Regions from separate parts of the Homo sapiens genome. Here region 1 is linked to region 2. The links come from fine-mapping of genetic effects on gene expression. A gene starts in region 2. The other region holds a variant in brackets. All regions are shown on one strand. Distances are from middle to middle. Region 1 overlaps JAKMIP3 (Janus kinase and microtubule interacting protein 3). Region 2 holds the start of DPYSL4 (dihydropyrimidinase like 4).

Region 1 (2,894 bases), 32 kb after region 2:
TCAGTACTCAGAGGCCGTGAGGACAGTGGCCCAGGAAGAACAGCTGGCAACCTGTGAGCTGCTCCCACGCAGTCATGTGCACACTGCTGGTCAGCAATAGTGACACTAACCATAGCAACAGGAGGGCCATTACCAGTTTAGCCAGGGCCAGCCTCCATGCCCAGCATCTTACAGGAACTCCCAATCCCTAGTGGTTACCAGCTGAGCTGGGCCTCAAACCCAGGTCATCTGCCTCCAAAGCCTCCCATGGCTCACACACTGGCTTCCACAGCAACTGACATGGGCCTTACACCCCCACCCAGGATGCTAGGTGCCTGGTGTGGCTGTTCTTTGCTCTGTAGGCTTCTGCGTTTGAGCCCTGGCCCCTCTGTGTGAGGAACTCACATCCACAAGTGCAGGAAGGAGAGATGCCTAGTGCAGCAGTCATGGCTGTGGGCACAGGAGAAGAATGCTGACATTCGACTCCTGCCTTCATTCTGACTGCGTGTCCTTGGGCAGGTCACCAGCTTCTGTGCCTGGCTGGCCAGACCAGTGCCTGCCACATAGGAAAGGCTCTTGAGTAGGCTGTCATTATAACACTATCATTACCATCCTCATCACCACCACCACCATCATCACCATCATCATTGATCACTATTGTCACCATCATGATCACCATCATCACCACCACTACCACCACTGTCATGATCATCACCACCATATCACCACCATCACCATCATCATGACCATCATCGCCACCATCATCATCACTACCTCCAGCAGCATCACCATTACCACTACTACCACCATGTCATCATGATCATTGCCATCATCATCACCATAACCATTATCATCATCATCATAATCACCATCATCCCCATCATGATCACCATCATGATAACCATTATCACCATCATAATCACCATCATCACCATCCCACTACCACCACCGTCATCATGATCACGATCATCACCATCATCATCACCACCACTATCACCACCATCACCACCACCACCGCCACCACCATCACCATTGCCATTGCCAGCACAATCATCACCACCACCATTGTCATCATCACCATTATCATCACTATCACTCTGAGAGTTCCCAGGCTGAACTTGGCCCCAGGAATGAGCATTTTCATCCCAGCCCACTTTCCCTTGCTTTGAGTAGCCAAGCAGGTCTCCTCACAGGCATGAGGGTCAAGACCCTGCCTGCTGGGCTGGGTCCCGAGGTGAACCTCTTGGTGGTGACACTTGTCTTTCCACAACATGGCCTGATATCCTCCTGGTCGTACCTTCCGTCACGTGATAGGAGTCCAGCAGGGACAGATGATTTTGCTTGTGCAGTCACGGGGGAAGTAGCTCCCAGCGGGGAACCCAGTTCTGAAGCCTAGTTTTCAACCTAGAAACGTCCTATGCTCCTCCCAGCCACACCAGATGAAATAGAACAAGACCACACCTCCCACTAGTGAGCAGGCTGTTGTCCCAGAACAGCCACCAGTTTCTCCAGTTCCTCAGGGGAAGGGTGGGAGGTAGACACCAGCCCACACCAACACCTGGATGGCCTTCAGGAATCCGGGC[A/G]TGTTTCTGTGCTTGAGTGACCTGCACAAAGGCTGTAGAACATTCTCACTGCACAGTGTGGGTTTAGGCCTCCTCAACTAATCCTGCTCCGTTTATGAAGCTCCAAGTGAAGACCCCATCAGGCAGCTCTGGAGAGCCAGAGCCTGCTGTGCAGGTGTCATTAGGGGCCATTAGGGGCCCTGCGACCTGGCCCACATGGGCACCTGAGGCACTGCTGGGCACCTGAGCCACGTGGCCGTTTCAGCCCAGTGCCCCTCCCCGGGGTTCCAGCAGTCTCGTGCCTCTCACCTTGTTGGCCTGGTCCAAGGCCTGTTTCCGGTAGTCCAGCTCCTCGTCCAGGTAGCCCTTCTGCTTACTGAACAGCTCCTGAAACACAGGAGGGCCATGCCTCGGTCTCGGATGTCCCACCTGCAGCACCGAGCCGCAGAACCTCGGTGAAGGTGCCACCAACCTTCTCGCTCTCCAGATCCACCATCTTCCGCTGCAGCGCCGCCTCTGTCTCCTCAATCTGCTGGAGCCACTGGACACAAACAGAACAAGCAGGACAGTGACCCCTAGGGTCCCCCACCCCGGCTCGTGGAGACAGCTGGGAGAAAAGCCAGGACAGCCTGGGTCTTCCTTCCTCTTCTCCTTAGGGAGGGGAGAGCACAGCCCTCTCCAGGGAGTTGAGGCTGCGCTGGCATCATGGCCCCACCCCTCCCACCCTCCAGGTGTCCAGGAAGTCTACCCCTGACACCTTCTCCAGGAGAGGAGGGACACTAGCTTGGGGCACCGTAGGAGAGACACATCTGCAGAGCTCTGCCAGGACAGGCGGGGAGGGGTGGCCTGTTTCTCCAAACCCCTATGTGCCAGGAGCACCCCTTCTCCTTGCTGTGGGAGGCCCAGCTCACCAGGCAGGTCAGGGCTAGGGGTGGGACTAGGAGCAGGTAGTGGGCTGGGTGGCCCCAGAAGGGGGTCAGGGTAAGTTGAACAGAGAACGCTGCCTGCAGACTCACCATACCTTCCCGCCTTTGGGAGGAAACGCAGACAGGGTTGGTGACAGAGCAAAGTGGAGCCGAATCTGTCCTTTGCAAAGATGCACAGTGGGTGCTGTCTGACCTGAGTGTGTCAGATCTCCCAGGGCAGACGGGGCTTAGTGGACCCCCCAAACCCGGCCCTGCAGGCCCTCCTCCCGAGATCACCACCTCTGAGCTGAGCAGGGCAGGAGACCCCAGGAGCCCGGCCCTCTCCCGACTGTCCACACAGCTGCTGTTACCTTTTCGGCCAAGGTCAGGACTGTCCTGGCTTGTATGACAACCACCTGCTCCTCATTGGTCAGGTTCTGCACCCAAA
Region 2 (2,894 bases):
AAGACCAGACCCAGCCGGGCAGAACCCTCTGGAGGCAGCAGCCCCTCCCATCTGGAGAGGGGAGGGCTCCTTCCTCGCTCAGAGTCTGGGGGAGTGGAGCCCACAGCCCACGGCTCGAGCTAATGCCAGAGGTCAGACCCCACGGCCCTCCCGCCGAGGCCAAGTCCAGAGTCGGGTCTGGGACCCCATGGACTCCCCCGCCCAGGTCCTGCCGGGTCCCGAAGCCTCCTTCCTCCCACCCCCATCTCCCCCCGCCCGAGCGGGGAGGCTTTGTTTCTGGCAGAGCGGGACCTCCCGCGCCGGTGCGTGTGGGTGTTGGGGAGGGGTCTCTGCTCTCGAAGGTTCAGGGGCTGCCAGGGTTCCCGGCCAGTGGCCCTTGACCGCTCGCTTTCCTTGGAGTCGCTGAACCCAGGTTACTGGAAGGGTTCGGGGCCACCAGGGACTCCGGCCAGAGCGGCCGGGGCTAAATCGCTTTGTCTCGGACAAAGAGCTCCCGACGCAGCGCCAGTGCGTCCAAGGGGCGGGCGACCCACGGGCTGCGCCGGGAACGGCATCTCCCCGCGCCCCGGACCAGCCCGGGCCAACAAAGGGCCGCGTCCGCCCGCCTCGCCACCCGACCGCCGTGGGAGAAAGGAGCCGCTAGCGCTCCGAGGGACAGGCCGCCCGGCCCCGGGTTCTCCCCGGGCGCAGCCGAGGCTCCCGGAAGCCGGCAAGGCCGGGCAAGGCCGGGCAGGGCCCGGCAGGGCCCGGCAGGGCCGGGCAGGGCCGGGCCGGGCCGGGCCTGGGCGCCCCGCTCCTTAAGGGGGTCTGCGCGGCGCTAGCGGGGACTCTCGGACCCTGGGGCGCGAAGGAGCCGAGCAGGGAAGGGCGGGCGCCAGGACAGGGACCAGACGCAAAGGCAGGGACCCCCCACCCACGCACAAGACCAGGAGGGTCCGCCCGGCGTCCAGGCCCCACTCCGGGCGGCGGGCAGGGGGCGCCGGGCGAAGCGGGACCGGGCTCACCGTGATCCGGGGGATGCTTTTCTTGCCCTGGAAGGACATCCTGCTCCTGGGGGTCTCTGGTAGGGGCGGCACAAGCGGGGGCGGGCGGGCGGGCGGGCGGGCGGGGGGACGCGTGAGCCGGGACGCGTGCGTGGGGACGGCGGGAGACAGACTGCGAGCGCGCGGGGCCGCACGGCTCCGTTCCGGTCCCGCCCCCGCTGGGCCCCGCCCCCACCCCGGCTCCGCCCCCGGCAGGCCCCGCCCCCGATAGGGCCCGCCCCAGCCCGAGCCCCGCCTCACCCCGCCCATCAGCCCCGCCCCCGCCCTCAGCCACTCCTTCGCTTTAAAGCCCCCCCAGCGCTGGAACCGCTGCAGGGTCTGATCTCTGCACCCCGGGCCCCCGCGCAGACCCGCGGACGAGCGCTGGGTGGGGATTTCAACCTGCTCCAGCTGATGTGCGCGGGGTTTGCACCCCGGGGAGGCGAGGGAGAGAGTCCGGCCACGTCCTGCCAGGCCCCGCCCGCGCCCCCGCTGCCCTCCAGCGCGGAACCCAGGTCCCAGGAGACGCGAGGCGCCCAAGGCCCCGGGATTCCGAGCCAGTCAACCCCGGGCCGCGACGCTCTGGGAACCACACCCGTCCAGGAAGGCACCTTGGCCAAAGCCGGCTCCTTCGCAGATGACCCGGGCCAGGGTCCGAGCGCCAGGCTGTGACCCCGCGAGGCTGTTCCACGCTGGCCGCGAGAGACGGAGGGCAGGAGGGGCCCGAATAGGACAGAGAGAGAGAGAGAGAGAGACAGAAGGAGGCGCACGCGCTCCCCAGGGACCGGGACGCGGTGGTGGGCGGGACCTCGCGGGGGTGGGGGGTGGTCGCAGGACCCAGAAGGCTCAGGACCTTTACGGATAGGGAGGACCCCGCAGGGGGGAGCGGGGGAGCCCCACGCCCGGCGTCCTCCGGGTGCGAGGGTCTCGGGGAGTCCGAGCCCGGGCCCACGGCCTCTGTCCCGCGGCCACTACCTGCTGGGGGTCCCGGGCCTGGGCCACGCCGGGCTGCCCTCGGGGACTTGCTGCGGCCGTTGAGGGGTCTCCGCGCGCCGCGCAGACTCGCCTCCCAACCCGAGGGCCCGGGCGGCCGCCGCCCAGAGCGTCCAGCGGCAGCGTCTTGCTCTCGAAGGCGTCCTCCACGCAGCGGAACACGCAGCCAAGCTTGGGCCGGGCCAGAGGCCTCGCGGGCTCCTGAGGCTGCCGCGCGGTCACGGCAGGAGCGGGCGACAGAATCCGGTCTCGGAGCCTCCTGTAGCGAGGTCTGCGCGGCAGGTGCACTGGGCGGACCTGGAGGCCGCGCCCTCCCCCCCCGCCTCCTGCCGCCCGGCAGCGCTGCGCGGAGCTGGCTCTGTCCACGTAGCGGGTGCTGAACGCCCCATTCTGGCCCCTGGGTGCTCGCTTAGTCCCGGCCACGCGTGGCTGCTCGCCCTCGGGACACACTGGGCGCTGGGAAGGCCGGGCGGGGAGCGCGCACCGGAGAAACCGCTGTGGGAATCCCGGCCACATTTCCAGGCCCCTTGGGCCGTCCCACGCCAGACAAGAAAGCCCTGACTCCGAAACCCTGGGCGAGTGTGGAGGGCGCGCGGGGGTGGGGTGTACCCGCCCACGCAAACTGCTGCTGATCTCCCTTAAAGCCGAGTTAGAGGCTTGGGGCGAGACAGGAGTGACGGGCGATGCTGTCACTCCATCTGTCATTCTACCCAGCCTGCAGCAGCTGAATTCGAACCCAGAGACTTCAGGCCTTTGCGTTGTTACCGCAGTCCGCATTTCAAAGCCAGAGTTTGGCCACTGAGTCACCATGACCTCGAGTACTGGCGGGGCCCGAGCCAGCAGAGCTAGGTCCAGCAGCTTCCCACCCCTTCGTCCTCC

Evidence for each region. PIP is the estimated chance that this variant, and not a neighbour inherited with it, causes the effect.
Region 1: its variant is fine-mapped to the expression of DPYSL4 in lymphoblastoid cells (GEUVADIS, PIP 0.95).

What each region holds. Positions count from the first base shown.
Region 1 is chr10:132,152,947-132,155,840 of GRCh38, reverse strand. JAKMIP3 (Janus kinase and microtubule interacting protein 3) reads right to left here. Exons shown (of 24, transcript NM_001323087.2): 17 at 2,818-2,883; 18 at 2,014-2,082; 19 at 1,851-1,928. Among named protein-coding and RNA genes, the nearest start is that of JAKMIP3-AS1, 32 kb to the left of the region's middle. The variant A/G (reference allele first, on the strand shown) is at 1,563.
Region 2 is chr10:132,185,213-132,188,106 of GRCh38, reverse strand. It overlaps DPYSL4 (dihydropyrimidinase like 4), which reads right to left and starts at 1,159. Exons shown (of 14, transcript NM_006426.3): 1 at 1,005-1,159. The coding sequence starts at 1,043. JAKMIP3-AS1 (JAKMIP3 antisense RNA 1) reads left to right here and starts at 1,355. Exons shown (of 4, transcript NR_184044.1): 1 at 1,355-2,894. RefSeq lists an enhancer at 1-440.